3 separate regions of the Homo sapiens genome follow, and regions 2 and 3 are each linked to region 1. Evidence: fine-mapped expression QTL. A gene starts in region 1. Each other region holds a variant in brackets. All regions are shown on one strand. Distances are from middle to middle.

The links. PIP is the estimated chance that this variant, and not a neighbour inherited with it, causes the effect.
Region 2: its variant is fine-mapped to the expression of TSNAXIP1 in aorta (GTEx, PIP 0.93).
Region 3: its variant is fine-mapped to the expression of TSNAXIP1 in thyroid (GTEx, PIP 0.97).

What each region holds. Positions count from the first base shown.
Region 1 is chr16:67,804,612-67,809,833 of GRCh38, forward strand. It overlaps TSNAXIP1 (translin associated factor X interacting protein 1), which reads left to right and starts at 2,278. Exons shown (of 16, transcript NM_001288990.3): 1 at 2,278-2,585. The coding sequence starts at 2,539. RANBP10 (RAN binding protein 10) reads right to left here and starts at 1,949. Exons shown (of 14, transcript NM_020850.3): 1 at 1,691-1,949; 2 at 817-928. The coding sequence starts at 1,925. RefSeq lists enhancers at 1,072-1,692, 1,693-2,312, 2,018-2,247 and silencers at 1,668-1,887, 2,388-2,507.
Region 2 is chr16:67,638,846-67,644,067 of GRCh38, forward strand. It overlaps CTCF (CCCTC-binding factor), which reads left to right. Exons shown (of 12, transcript NM_006565.4): 12 at 1-332. Among named protein-coding and RNA genes, the nearest start is that of CARMIL2, 3.7 kb to the right of the region's middle. The variant TA/T (reference allele first, on the strand shown) is at 2,661.
Region 3 is chr16:67,781,298-67,786,519 of GRCh38, forward strand. The region is part of intron 2 of RANBP10 (RAN binding protein 10); the gene reads right to left. Among named protein-coding and RNA genes, the nearest start is that of RANBP10, 23 kb to the right of the region's middle. RefSeq lists an enhancer at 163-312. The variant A/G (reference allele first, on the strand shown) is at 3,054.

The DNA of each region.
Region 1 (5,222 bases):
AGGCTGGTCTTGAACTCCTGATCTCAAGTGATCCGCCCGCCTCGGTCTTCTGAAGTGATAGGATTACAGGTATGCCAGTTAATTTTTTTGTATTTTTAGTAGAGACAGGGTTTCAGCATGTTTGCCAGGCTAGTCTCCAACTCCTGACCTCAGGTGATCTGCCCATCTTAGCCTCCCAAATTGCTGGGATTACAGGCGTGAGCCACCGTGCCTGGCTCCTAATGCTGACTTTAATGAGGACCTTCCTAAAGTTGATCCAACTAGTAGTGTTCAAGTCCTTGGACTGAAAAACAAGTTTATGAGCAGCAAGGTCACCTGATTCTGATCATGTGTATGCTGTTTACCCTGAGATGACAGGCCGGTGGCCACAGAAGCTTTCATGAATGCTGCAAAGACTCTACTATCTCTTTGAAGGCTACCAGGGCCTCCACATGACTAAATGCCATAAAAAAGAACCTCATGAATACAGCAAGAATGTGAAAGGAAGGAAGTCACAAAAACACCACATGCTCATGAGGGAAACTCCATTCTGGACACTAAATTTTTAAAGTAAACTTGTTACTTGTTTGCCTAACCTTCTAGGTATCAAATTACATCATCACTAAAAATAATCCCTGCTTTACCCCCAACACACCCACTGGCCATCAAGATCTGCTGCTTAGACCAGACCATGCCCACAGTCAGGAAATAATGGCAGCCCAGACCCATGCGGCTCCCCAGCTCACATCAGCAACAAGTGCCAGCCAAAGGACCTGAACTCTGACCACAGGGATCAGCTCCATGATCAGGGAAAGAGGGTGGTCATGAAGGGCTTACCCATCTCTTCCTTTGCTGACAATCTTCACTTCAAAGTAATAAATGCCACAGGCAGCAGGTATGGGGTGGGTGGCACGCACTGAGGCCGCATCTTTGTGATTTTTGCCATGACCTAACAGGAGAGGGCAAGTAAGAAATTTCAGCAGAAGGAAATGCAAATGGAAGCCTCATTTTTCTCTGCAACTCCTCCATGACAACTCCACTCCTCTGTGGCCAGAGGACGCACTTACACAGGCCGAGGAATCATTAGACAACTGAATAAACACTTAAACCTTCCACCTTTGCCTCACCTCCTCCTGAGAACAGCAGTCCTGCCTGAGACACTGCCCATACAAACAAAACAAGGGTAGAGGCAATGTGAGAGATACTCAAGTGCTGCTGGCAGCCTCTCTAGAATCCAGGCAGCCCACCTGGGAGGCCAGGGGAAGAAGGATGAGGCCGACCTGGAAGACACCCCCCAAACTCTAGCACGGAACCCCAGGCTCAGTCTAGGATGCCTGGCAGGTGGGGAAGCCCATGAGTCTCACGCTAATGGTAGGTATGTGACCACCCCTTTCTTCTAAGCAGTGGCGAAAGGTCCCGCTGCCGTTGGCGCCAGCCTAGGATAAGCACGGAGGCCCTGGAGTGGAAGGTCCGGCCCAGCACTGGGTTTGGACACCTGTTGCGGTTCTCTTGACGGCAGGTGTCTCAGGACAGAGAACAGGCAGTCAGCCCTCGGCCTGTTCAGCCTCACCACCCTGGACATCCTGAAAGGGCCAAGCCCTAACTTGGAGCACCTAGGCAGGGAAAGGGAGGTGATAGGGCGGGGGCCTGGCAGCAGAGCCACCCCACGGACGCTCTAGCCTTAATTCCCCCCAGCCTGACGGGCCGATACCTTTGTAGTGGACGCGGAGGTTGCCCTGGGAGAGACCAATGTAGTTGTATTTGTCCTTGGGGCTCCAGGAGCGCGGCAGCGGAGTCTCTTGCTGGTTGACCGCGGGATACAGGCGCTGCAAGCGCCGGCTCAGCTCCTGCTCCCCAGGGGACGGCAGCCCGCCCCCAGCGCCCCCGCCGGAGGAGTCCCCAGGCTGCGGGTTCCCAGCTCCCGGGTCTGCCGTCGCTGCCGCCATCTTGGAGGGAGCTACTATTGTGTCACTGGGGGCGGGGAGGAGCGGGACCAGATCCGCCCCGCTCAGCCAATGGCCCGTGAGCCTCCCTGGGCCGCAGGGAAACCGAGTCCGAGTCCGGCACCCCTCTTTGGACACTGACACGCCTTACCACATTTCGAACTCCATACCCCACAATGCAGAGCTCTCGAGAGGCGGAGCAACTCGGGCTGGTAGAGAATTCTGGGAGATGTAGTATAACCGTCCTCAGCCATAAGCCTGTCCCATCGAGACGTCGGGACACCGAAAACTACCATTCCCGCCGGCAAAGCGGCTCCGGCCTCTCAGCACACTTCCCTCCCCATGGCCTCTGTTCATCCCCCTGCCTCAGTTCTGGTACCTGGGGTCAAATCGGCTGTAGTGGTTGACTCTCAGGGCACCCGCTGCCGGGTCCCAGTCCACCTTTGCTACTTTGTCCTACTCCCAGCCCGCGGGCGCTAGGCTCGGGGGCGTGGCGCATCCCTGACTCCGCCCCCGCCGCGGGGGGGCCTCTGGGGCCTGGTCGCCATGGCGACCGGCTGTACGCTACCACAGCTTCCCAGGCCGCGGGTGCTGATTGCCCGCCTGCCCGTGGGTCATGGCCTGCCAGCAGTCGCGGTACCACAGCTTCTCGTCCGCGTCGAGGTAGGCGCTGGCAGGGATGAGGGCAGAGATGAGGGTTTGAGTACTTCTAGAGAGGGAAATGGCACTTGATCCGGACCTCTGCACCTCCTGCTGGCCTCTGACCATTGATCTAGGGCTCCAGCACCACAGAGTCAATGGTTAGAATCGGGCTGATTTAGCCCAGTGAAGACGTTACGTGCTAGCAAAACGGTAGGCGCACTTTATCATTACTAGTAACAACCAGCTTGTATTGAATGTACTATATGCCAAATGCTTTATATACCACATTTTTAAATATTTTATTTTTGAGACAAGATCTCGTTCTGTCGCCCAGGCTGGAGTGCAGTGGCACTACTACGGCTCACTGCAGCCTCGACCTCCCGGGCTCAAGCGATCCTTCTACCTCAGCCTCCCGAGTAGCTGGGACTACAGGCATGCGCCACTACGCTTGGCTAATTTTTGGGTGTTTCTTTGTTCGTTTGTTTTTTGTAGAGACGAGGTTTCACCACGTTGCCCAGGCTGGTTTCGAACTCCTAGACTCAAGCGACCCTCCCACTTCGACCTCTCAAACTGGGATTACAAGCGTGAACCCCCACACCCGGCCTACGTACCATATTTAATCCTCACAACAACTGTATAAAGTAGTAATATTACCATTGAACAAGTAAAGAAATACTTTAGAAGCCTGGAGAGATCATCCTCTGGGTAGCTTCTGCCTGTACTCAGGTGTATAGCCTCTGGGTACTGCAAAATATGACCAGCTCCATCAGCCTGGAGAGCCATACATACGGATTAAAACAAAAATTTTGGCTAAATCGTTTTCTAGTTTTGGGACTTCAGACAGGGCCCTTCAAGTTCCAGGCCTCAGCTTATATATCTCAAACATGGGAATGATACAGCCCACCCCACAAACATTGTTGGGAACATTTAGGCAGAATATGTGAAGCTCTTGACACAGCTCTTGTATGTAATAGGCACCCAGTAAGTGTTGAATGAATGTAGTGTCCCCCCTTCTACTCATTCCCAGTGGGGGAAAAAAAAAAAAACACCACCCAATCCCACCTAAACTCTTCAGGGTCTGCTGCCTTGACAGAGAAAAGCCTACAAAAGCCCCTAAGAGGCCAGGCACGGTGGCTCACGCCTATAATCCCAGCACTTTGGGAGGCCGAGGCGGGGGGATCACTAGGTCAGGAGATCGAGACCATCCTGGCTAACGTGGTGAAACCCGGTCTCTACAAAATACAAAAAATTAGCCAGGCATGGGGGTGGGCACCTGTAGTCCCAGCTACTCGGGAGGCTGAGGCAGGAGAATGGCATGAACCTGGGAGGCAGAGCTTGCAGTGAGCCGAGATCCTGCCACTGCACTCCAGCCTGGGCAACAGAGCGAGACTACGTCTCAAAAAAAAAAAAAATTTAGCCGGGCATGGTGGCAGGCACCTGTATTCCCAGCTACTTGGGAGGCTGAGGCAGGAGAATCGCTTGAACCAGGGAGGCAGAGGGCAGAGGTTGCAGTGAGCCAAGATCACGCCACTGCACTCTAGCCTGGGCGACAGAGTGAGACTCCGTCTCAAAAAAAGAAAAAAGAAAAAAAAGGAAAAAGAAAAGAGAGAGAGAGAAAGAGAATTGTTACCCAGCACAGGATTAATTTAGTAAACTGCCATTCTCTATGAAAAGGATATGAAGCAGACCCAGAAAGAGAATCCCCATTCATTTTAAGAAAGAAGCACAGGGCTGGTCATGATGGCTCATGCCTGTAATCCCAATACTTTGGGAGGCCAAGGTGGGAGGATCACTTGAGGTAAGGAATTCAAGACCAGCCTGGGAAACATAGTAAGACCCTGTCCCTACAAATAATAATAATAATAATAATAAAAGTTTCAGCTACTCAGGAGGCTGAGGCAGGAGGATTACTTGAACCCAGAAGTTCGAGAGGGTGTAGTGAGCTGTGATCACACTAGTGCCTTGTAGCCTGGGCAACAAAGCAAGACCCTGTCTATTAAAAAAAAAAAAATGGCCGGGCGTGGTGGCTCACGCCTGTAATCCCAGCACTTTGGGAGGCCAAGGTGCGCGGATCACGGGGTCAAAAGATCGAGACAATCCTGGCCAACATGGTAAAACCTTGTCTCTACTAAAAATACAAAAATTAGCCAGGTGTGGTGGCTTGCACCTGTAGTCCCAACTACTCGGGAGGCTGAGGCAGGAGAACCCAGGAGGTGGAGGTTGCAGTGAGCCCAGATCATGCCACTGCACTCCAGCCTGGCAGCAGAGTGAGACTCCATCTCAAAAAAAGAAAGAAAATCAGCCAGGCATGGTGACCTGTGCCTGTAATCCCAGCTATTCTGGAGGCTGAGGCACAAGAATTGCTTGAACCCAGGAGGAGGAGGTTGCAGTGAGCTGAGATCTTGCCACTGCATTCCAGCTGCCTGGGAGACACAGCAAGACTCCGTCTCAAAAAAAAATAAATAAATAAATAAATAAATAATACAGGCCGGGAGCAGTGAGTGGCTCATGCTTGTAATCCCAACACTTTAGGAGTCTGAGGTGGGTACATCATTTGGGGTCAGGAGTTCAAGACCAGCCTGGCCAACATAGTGAAACCCCATCTCTACTAAAAATACAAAAACTAGCCAGGCGGTAGTGGCATGCACCTGTAATCCC
Region 2 (5,222 bases), 170 kb before region 1:
GATCTTCAAAAAATAAAATAATGTGAAGCAAAACCAACTAAAAAGTGATTCTTGCACATGAACTGTCACATGTTTAAAAATGTGTTTTTTAGAGAGCCTCAGTCTTACTGATTTCAAACACTTTTTTCTTCTGTGTATTGCTTTTAAGAGAGCCATCAGTTAGCTATCAGACTCTAGGTTGATGCATTTTGTACTTAGCTGTACTGTGTGATATTTTTCATTATTTTAGGACGCCAACATGAGACCTGTAATAAAATATGTAATGGGGTTGAAAGCTGGGGAGGAGGATCTACTGCTGTACAGCTAATAAATCATAACGGATTAACAAGTGCTCCAAAGACTCCATCTTGCGTGATTCCTGCCTGCTTGAGGGAGGCTGGGGGGCTGCATACATGGTTCCAGGCTGTGCAGGCTGCTGCCTTTCACAGGCAACCTCTGTTCCCTGGGATGGTACTTTCTCTAGCAGATGGGACGATATGATCTTGGCGGGTGACTGGATATTGAGCGCATCCTGCTGTAACTGTTTTTTTGTTTTGTTTTGTTTTGTTTTGTTTTGTTTGAGATGGAGTCTCGCTCTGTTGCCCAGGCTGGAGTGCAGTGGCGCAATCTCAGCTCACTGCAACCTCCACCTCCCAGGTTCACGCCATTCTCCTGCCTCAACCTCCCGAGTAGCTGGGACTACAGGCGCCTGCCACCATGCCTGGCCAATTTTTTGTATTTTTAGTAGAGACTGGGTTTCACTGTGTTAGCCAGGATGGTCTCGATCTCCTGACCTTGTAATCCGCCTGCCTAGGCCTCCCAAAGTGCTGGGATTACAGGCGTGAGCCACCACACCCGGCCCCTGCTGTAACTTCTTAACTCCCCAAAATGTGTGTCTAAGTAGACAGGTGAGTAGATGGACAGCAGCCAGCTTCCATGATCCACTTGAGGAGTAAGTGCCCCATGCACAGAGTAGATGGGGCGTAGAGCTGCTTAGAGTGAAAGGGGCTGAGGGGAAGCTGGTCTACTCAGGCTCTCAGCTCAAGGAGGCCTAGGATCAGATGTACCTGGAGCTCTGCCAGGTGTGAGGGAACAGAGAGGAGCTGGGCCCAGTCTGCCCTAGAGAAGTTCATTTGAAAGGAGAGACAGATGCACAACCACCGAGTAGTGAAGAGACCGTCTTAGATAATAGAGCTGCCTGGTAGCACTTCAGGAAGGTGGTTGGAAAGGGAGTTGTGTCGTGTTTGGAATCTTAGGCGTGAGTGGAAAATTATCTTGCTGCTGCTGCCATTCCTAGGCAGATTGCTTTGGCAAACCCACTTGAGGTGAAAGCTTAAACCACTTGAGTTTTTTAACCTAAATTCCAACTTAGGAGTTGTCAATTAGAAGTAACAGAGCAAAATGTGTGAAGCTTTTAGCTGGCTAGTGCTGTCCACACAGATGGGTCTCCCAGGAAAACGACCCAGGGCCTCCTGGGGCCTCGGGACTCAGCCAGGCAGTTAACTCGTTGGTCTGAAAGTTAGTGGTCTCAGGCTGTTGGAGCTTGAGTTCTCTATCCCATCCACGGGTTTACCCGCCAGGGTACCCCCTACCAGCCAGCCAAAACTTTTTTTCTTTTTTTCTTTTTTTTTTTTGAGACGGAGTCTCGCTCTGTCACCCAAGCTGGAGTGCAGTGGCACAATCTTGGATCACTTCAACCTCCACCTCGGGTTCAAGGGATTCTCCTGCCTCAGCCTCCTGAGAAGCTGGGATTACAGGCACCCACCACCACACCTTGCTAATTTTTGTATTTTTAGTAGAGATGGGGTTTCACCATGTTGACCAGGCTGGTCTGGAACTCCTGACCTCAGGTGATCTGCCCGCCTCGGCCTCCCAAAGTTCTAGGATTACAGGCATGAGCCACCACACCCGGCCCCAACTTTTTTTTAATTCCAAGTTTTTTTTGAGACAGGGTCTCACTCTGTCACCTAGGCTGGGATGTGGTGGCACAATCAGCTCACTGTGACCTTGAACTAGGCTCAAGCAATCCTCCTACCTCAGCCTCCTGGATAGCTGGGACTATGGGCCATGCCATCACACCTGGCTCATTTTTGTTTTTTTTGTTTTTTTAGGGTTTTTTTTTTTTTTTTTTTTTTTAGAGATAGGATCTTGCTATGTTGCCCAGGCTAGTCTCAAACTCCTGGACTGAAGTGATCTTCCTGCCTCAGCCTCCAAAAGTGCTGGATTATAGGCATGAACCACCATTCCCAGCCACCTAAGCATATATAACCTCTTTGCAGAACAATGAGGCTCAGTTTTTCTGTATCTTCATTCAACACAGCCTGTCATTCCTGATTGTATACATTCTGTTTGAAAGGTTTTTGTTTGTTTGTTTGCTTGTTTGTTTGTTTTGAGATGGAGTCTCGGTCTGTTGCCAGGCTGGAGTGCAGTGGCGTGATCTCGGCTCACTGCAACCTCTGCCTCCCAGTTTCAAGCAATTCTCCTGCCTCAGCCTCCCCAGTAGCTGGGAATACAGGCACGCACCACCACACCTGGCTAATTGTATTTTAATAGAGACGGAGTTTCACCATGTTGGCCAGGATGGTCTCAATCTCCTGACCTCATGATCCGCCCGCCTCGGCCACCCAAAGTGCTGGGATTACAGGCGTGCACCACCATGCCCGGCCCTCTGTTAGAAAGTT[TA/T]AAAGTTTAAAAGTAGCCTCCCAGCTACTTGGGAGGCTGAGGCAGGAGAATTGCTTGAACCCGGGAGGCGGAGGTTGCAGTGAGCCAAGATTGCGCCACTGCACTCCAGCCTGGGTGACAGCGAGACTCCGTCTCAAAAAAAAAAAGTTTAAAAGTGGATTTGTTTTAGCTGGAGAGGGGGCAAGAGAATTGACATCCTGATGGAGTTAAGGCTGAAAAGGGATCCTCCTGCTGCATAGCCCAGGATGCATCCTGTCTGTCCCTTAATTATAAAACATTCAGCAGCAGAAGCCAGTTGTGTTACTGCTTCTGTTGACAGGGAAGTTCCTGAACCTGCATGCAGCTCCCTCAGTGTTAAGCCACAGAAGTAAAGAACCTTTGCCCCTTTCACCCCTAGGCTGGCATCACCCTATTGCTGCCCAGCTCAGCAAGTACCTGAACCCTTCTCTGACTTGTCAGGACCTGGTCTTTGAAAATCATCTGTGGTGAGCCTTATGGCAGCACCAAGGGGGCATAGCCCGGCCCACCTGGGAGGCAAGTCTCGCCCTCAGCCTGTGCTACCCAGAGCAGGCGAGGCTGATGCTCTCGGGAGCTTTGACATTTCCTGAATGCCCATGGAGTGGCATGCCATCCAGAACACAGACGGGCTTGAACAAGCTGACAGCTTCTCACTGAGTCACTGTCACTTGTAAGAACCGAGTCCCATGTGTTCACTTGGTCTCTGAGATCAGGTTTGCTGTGTTACTACCTCCCTGACCACCATCAGCCACGTGGCTAGCCCTGCAAGCCTGTCCAGATCTCTTAGTTGTCCCTGCCTGCCCCCATGTGCTCACACACACAGGGACTGGCCCCACTGGCATCGCTGCAGCCTCCAGAGGCCCTCCACCTGGGCATGGCTCCAGCCCTTTTGGCAGTCACTCTCATTTCTCTCTCCTCCTTGTCATTCTAAACAGAAAAATCCCAGTGAGGTGGATTTTCTGCCATTCTGTTTTGGAATCCCTGGGTTGTCATGGTAGACTTGGCAAATGTGAGTGTTATCTGAGTGCCAGGCACTGTTGCGGGCACTTCCCTTAATAAACATTGAATCCTTTGAGCAAGGCTTGAGGTTAGTTAATAGCTCCGGCTTACAAACAAAACTGGAAGACCAGAAAGGCTAAGCAATGTGTTCAGTGTCAAAATCTAGGCAGTGTGCCTGCAGAACCTGCTTTTTTTTTTTTTTGAGACGGAGTCTTGCTCTGTCGCCCAGGCTGGAGTACAGTGGTGAGATCTTGGTTCACTGCAACCTCTGCCTCCTGGGCTCAAGCAATGCTCATGCCTCAGCCTCCCCAGTAGCTGGGACTACAGGTGCCCACCACCACGCTTGGCTAACTTTTTGTATTTTAGTAGAGACAAGGTTTCACCATGTTGGCCAGGTTGGTCTCGAACTCCTGAGCTCAGGCGATCCACCTCGGCCTCCCAAAATGCTGGGATTATAGGCATGAGCCACTACACCTGGCCAGAACCTGCATTCTTGGTTCCTTGGCAGTACTGTGTGAGACCTACTGAATTGTCACCCTACAAGCAGTTTGAGGGTTCTGTGTGGTCTTAGAGCCTTAGATCTTAATCCAAATTATGTCTCTTCGTGGCCAGGCATGGTGTCTCACGCCTGTAATCCCAGCACTTTGGGAGGCCGAGGTGGGCAGATCACCTGAGGTCAGGAGTTGGAGACCAGCCTGACAAACATGGTGAAACCCCGTCTCTACTAAAAACATAAAAATTCCCTGGGTGTGGTGGCACATGCCTGTAATCCCAGCTACTTGGGAGGCTGAGGCAGAAGAATTGCTTGAACCCAGGAGGCAGAGGTTGCAGTGAACCAAGATCGCCCTACTGCACTCCAGCCTGGGCAACAAGAGCGAAGCTCTGTCTAAAATAATAATAATAATAATGATAATAATAATAATAATAATTAGCCCAGGCATGGTGGTGGGCACCTGTAATCCCAGCTACTCGGGAGACTGAGGCAGGAGAATTGCTGGAACCTGGGAGGCGGAGGCTGCAGTGAACCAAGATCGCCCTACTGCACTCCAGCCTGGGCAACAAGAGCGAAGCTCTGTCTAAAATAATAATAATAATAATGATAATAATAATAATAATAATTAGCCCAGGCATGGTGGTGGGCACCTGTAATCCCAGCTACTCGGGAGACTGAGGCAGGAGAATTGCTGGAACCTGGGAGGCGGAGGCTGCAGTGAGCCAAGATTGTGCCACTGCACTCCAGCCTGGACCACAGAGCAAGACTCTATCTCAAAACCAACAAACAAACCAAGTATGTCTCTTCAATCGGGGAGGCAGCAGGAACTCTCTGTGCTGCATCTTCTGCAGCTGACTCCTCCTTGTCACCCTTAGCTGTCATTTCACCTCCACCTTGCTGAGCTATGGGCAGGGTAGACTGCTGTTCCTTACCGCTTAAGTGGAGTTTAGATTGTAATAGAAGAAAAAAAATGCAGTCTCTTCCTGTGAACTTTCCAGAATCTAGGTCCTGGTCTTTGAGAGGGCAACAGGCTACCAGGCCCCACCCTATG
Region 3 (5,222 bases), 23 kb before region 1:
AGAAAGGAGGTGAATATTTGCTTCCTTGTTGGTAATGGGCCAGGCTATGCTAGAAACACTCACAGATACAACCTGCCTGGGTCAGCCTGGGAGGGAGGGCGGCAACAAGGGCTTTTACTCCCGGAGCAGGTGACTAGAATAGATAGAGCAGCTTAGCTCCCAACACTTCTCTACCAGGGCCTTCTTTTCTAACTGCAGGATATATTTCAGGAGCTGGGGAGAGGGAATTATTTACGCTATGACACAGGTGAAAGTAAGGTAAAGCCATCTGATTTACTCCTTTCTTCTATATGGCAGCAAAGTGGAGAAGAAATATCATGCCAGAGAGGTGAGACAGGAAGCACAGAGAGGCAACAGACAAGCTCTTCGTGGCAGTGAGGCCATGAGTAGGCCTGTAACTTCTCAGTTCCTACCGTTGCCTGCCAAAACCACAATGCAAGGTGGAGATACGAGAACAGCTATTCTGCCCTATCTAGCTCAAGAGAGAAGAGGGCAGCAAATAGGCACTGCTTGGGACAAGTGGAGTCGAGATCCACCAGAACACAAGATAGAGAAGAAGCAACCGCACCTGGAAGCAGGCAGCAAAGGCCCACAGGTGTCCACACTCACAAATCCACCCAGAAGCTCCCACTATCCACTGCAACTGGCAGGGGGTCCATGCTGCCACCCGAGCAAGGGGGTCCACCCAGCCCTGCCACCCGAGCTCAAGTCTGCTGAAACCCTGCAGTCATGTGGAGAGCTGCAAGCACAGTCCAGTCCTCTTGGATTCCTTTTTCTCTTTGCTTTTCCAGATTTTCTACAACTAACACAAATTACTTTTTACAATTTTTAAATTTTAATTTCTATTTTTAGTTTTTATTTGAGACAGGGTCTCACTCTGTCTCCCAAGCTGGAGTGCAATGGTGAGACCTTGCTCACTGCAACCTCTGCCTCCCAGGCTCAAGCCATCCTCCCACATCAGCCCCCTGAATAGCTGGGACCATAGGTGAGTGCCACCACACCTGGGTAGTTTAGAGATGGGGATTTGCCCTGTTGCCTAGGCTAGTCTTGAACCCCTGAGCTCAAGCGATCAGCCTGCCTTGGCCTCCCAAAATGCTTGGATTACAAGTGTGAGCCACCGTACCCAGCCAATTATTTTATTTTATATTTTATTTTATTTTATTATTTTTTTAGAGACGAAGTCTTGCTCTGTCACCCAGGCTGGAGTGCAGTGCCGCGATCTTGGCTCACTGCAACCTCTGCCTCCCAGGTTCAGGCAATTCTCCTGCATCAACTTCCCAAGTAGCTGGGACTACAAGGCGTGCGCTACCACACCCAGCTAATTTTTGTATTTTTCAGTAGAGATGGGGTTTCACTATATGTTGGCCAGGCTGGTCAACTCCTGACCTCATGTAATCCGCCCAGCTCGGCTTCCCAAAGTGCTGGGATTACAGGCATAAGCCACCGTGCTGGGCCAAAAATCACTTTTAAGAGCCATCTCTTAAAAGCCACTTTTAAGAGCCATCTCTTAAAAGCCACTTTTAAGAGCCATCTCTTAAAAGCCACTTTTAAGAGCCATCTCTTAAAAGCCACTTTTAAGAGCCATCTCTTAAAAGCCACTTTTAAGAGTAATGGCTACATACTGCAGAGGTTTTTGGCTCTCACTCATCAGACTCTCTCTGGATCACCCCAGGACATTTCAGTGATGGGGGACACATTAGGGAACGTGGCTTTCACAGTCAGCTCCTTGGTCCACCTAGCACCCCGAGTCTTGACAGAAGGGCAGAGGCTGCATCACAACAGTACAGCTTCAGAAACAGTCAAAATCCTTGCTGAGCAGAGGCCCTGAGGTTCCGGCTCACATGGCACCTAGTATGTCCCAAGCTGGGCACAGAGCACACACGCAGGAGACCCTGCTGCAGTGAGACAGATTTGGCACAGCTCCAACTGACTAGAGTTTCTTCTGCGACCCAGGCAGGCCTGGTGGTGGACAGAGGACAGAACTTTAGAAACCAGGGCCACCTGACTCTCACACCTCCCAGATATGTACAAGGCCACGGGAAGGAGACGACCCCTTTACTGTACTCTACCACCCAGTCCTGATAACAAGTTTGAGAACCCTGCACAGAGAACCCCTTTGGCAACAAGTCTGACTTCCCCTCCTGCCTCCTGAAGAGTTCTGAGGTGACAAGAACACTTCACAGCAGGGCTCCAAACACAACACCCTTGACTCTAAAAGGCTGGTCTCAGACACTCCAGCCTAATTCAAGACTATGGGTCTTAGATTTCAACCCACATATCAGGTTCCTTATTAGAGGAGGAAAGGTTAAACCAAAGGCTCCTAAGCTCCTTCCCAGCTTTGACCTAGACTTCAATTCTTCACAGAAAAATGTCTGTGCACATTGTAAATGTGCAGTGCCCAGATGCAAACCCAAGATGAGGAAGACCCTGGAACAGCAATCAAAAAGCCACTAAGAAGACATCAGGCTGAGTGCGGTGGCTCACGCCTATAATCCCAGCACTTTGGGAGGCCAAGGCAGGTGGATCACAAGGTCAGGAGTTCAAGACCAGCCTAGCCAAGATGGTAAAACCCCATCTCTACTAAAAATACAAAAAAATTAGCCGGGCGTGCTGACGGGTGTCTATAATCCCAGCTACTCGGGAGACTGAGGCAGAGAAGTGTTTGAACCTGGAAGGTGGAGGTTGCAGTGAGCCAAGATGGCGCCACTGCACTCCAGCCTGAGTGACAGAGAGAGAGACTCCGTCTCAAAAAAAAAAAAAAAAAAAAGACATCAAAGGAAAAGAAAGTTATAGAGCAATATAGATGAATATAGATGCAAAAATCCTTAATAGAATAGTAGCAGACCAAATCCAACAGTGTATTAAAAGGATTATATACCACAACCTAATGGGATTTATCCCAGAAAGGCAAGGATGGTTCAACATAAGAAAATCAGGTGGAGGCCGGGAGAGGTGGCTCACGCTTGTTAATTCCAGTATTTTGGGAGCCCAAGGCGGGTGGATCATTTGAGGTCAGGAGTTTGAAACCAGCCTGACCAACATGGTGAAACCCT[A/G]TCTCTACTAAAAATACAAAATTAGGCCAGGCCTGGTGGCTCACGCCTGTAATCCCAGCACTTTGGGAGGCCAAGGCGGGAGGATCACCTGAGGTTGGGAGTTTGAGACCAGCCTGACCAACATGGAGAAACCCCGTCTCTACTAAAAATACAAAATTAGCCGGGCGTGGTGGCCCATGCCTCTAATCCCAGCTACTCTGGAGGCTGAGGCAGGAGAATCATTTGGACCTGGGAGGTGAAGGTTGCGGTGAGCCAAGATCGAGTCATTGCGCTCCAGCCTGGGCCACAAGAGTGAAACTCCATCCCAAAAAAAAAAAAATTAACCTAGCTTGGTGGTGTATGCCTGTAATCCCGGCTACTCGGGAGGCTGAGGCAGGAAAATCGCTTGAACCCGGGAGGCGGAGGTTGCAGTAAGCCGAGATTGAGCCATTGCACTCCAGCCTGGGTGACAAGAGCGAAACTCCATCTAAAAAAAAAAAAGAAAAAGAAAAGAAAAGAAAATGATCTAAATATAAGAGGTAAGGCCCTGGGCCAAAAATCTGGCACTGGCCCAGTAGCACTTAAAAAAAAAAAAATAGGCTGGGTGCGGTGGCTCACGCCTGTAATCCCAGCACTTTGGGAGGCCGAGGCGGGCAGATCACCTGAGGTCAGAAGTTTGAGACCAACCTGGCCAACATGGTGAAACCCCATCTCTACTAAAAATACAAAAAAAGTAGCCAGGCGTGGTGGCAGGTGCCTATAATCCTAGCTACTCGGGAGGCTGAGGCAGGAGAATCACTGGAACCCTGGAAGAGGAGGTTGCAGTGAGCCGAGATCGTGCCACTGCATTCCATCCTGGGTGACAGATCGAGAGTCGGTCTCAAAAATAAATAAATAAATAAAAAAGAAAGAAAGAAAGAAGGGAGGGAGGGAAGGAAGGGAAAAACTAAAATAAAAAGGAAAGAGCCAAAACCATAAAATTCTTAGAAGAAAGCGTAAGGGTAAATCTTCATGACCTTTGATTTCACAATGGATTTAGAGATGATACAAAAAGGATGAACAAAAAGAAAAATACATGAATTGGACTTAATTAATATTAAAACTTCTGTGCATCAAAAGACATCATCGGGGCTCATGCCTATAATCCCAGCACTTTGAGAGGCTGAGGCAGGCGGACCACTTGAGGTCAGGTGTTCGAGACCAGCCTGGTCGACATGGCAAAACCCCGTCTCCACTAAAAATACAAAAATTAGCCAGGTATGGTGGTCCATGCCTGTAATTCCAGCTACTCAGGAGGCTGAGGCAGGAGAATCACTTGAACCCGGGAGGCAAAGGTTGCAGTGAGCTGAGATCACACCACTGCACTCCTGCCTAGGAAACAGAGTGAGTGAGACTCCATCTCAAAAAAAAAAAAAAAGCCAGGCACAGTGGCTCACGCCTATAATCCCAACACTTTGGGAAGCCAAGGTGGTGGATCACAAGGTCAGGAGATCGAGACCATCCTGGCTAAAACGGTGAAACCCCGTCTCTACTAAAAATACAAAAAATTAGCCGAGCATGGTGGCAGGCGCCTGTAGTCCCAGCTACTCGGGAGGCTGAGGCAGGAGAATGGCGTTAACTTGGGAGGCGGAGCTTGCAGTGAGCGGAGATCAGAGCGAGACTCCATCTCAAAAAAAATAATAATAATTAAAAAAAAAAAAAGACATCATCAAGAGGCCAGGCATGGTAGCTCACATCTGTAATACCAGTGCTTTGGGAGGCTGTGGAGGCAGGAGGACTGCTTGAGCCCAGGAGTTCAAGACCAGCCTAGGCAACATGGCAAGACCCCATCTCTACAAAAAATTTAAAATTTAGCCAGTCATGGTGGCATGCACCTGTAGTCCCAGCTACTTGGGATGCTGAGGTGGAAGGATCACTTGAGCCCAGGAGGTTAAGTCTGCAGTGAGCCAAGATTGCACCACTGCACTCCAGCCTGTGCGACAGAGCAAAAATCCATCTGAAAAAAATAAAAATAAAAATAAAAAATAAGAGAGTGAAAAGACAATCAATGGAATAGGAAAAAGTATTTGCAAATCATAGATCTGATAAGGGTTTAATATCAAAAATAAAGAATTCCTATAACTCAACAACAGAAAGACAAACAACCCAAACAGGCAAAGGACTTGAACAGACATTTCTCCAAAGAATCTA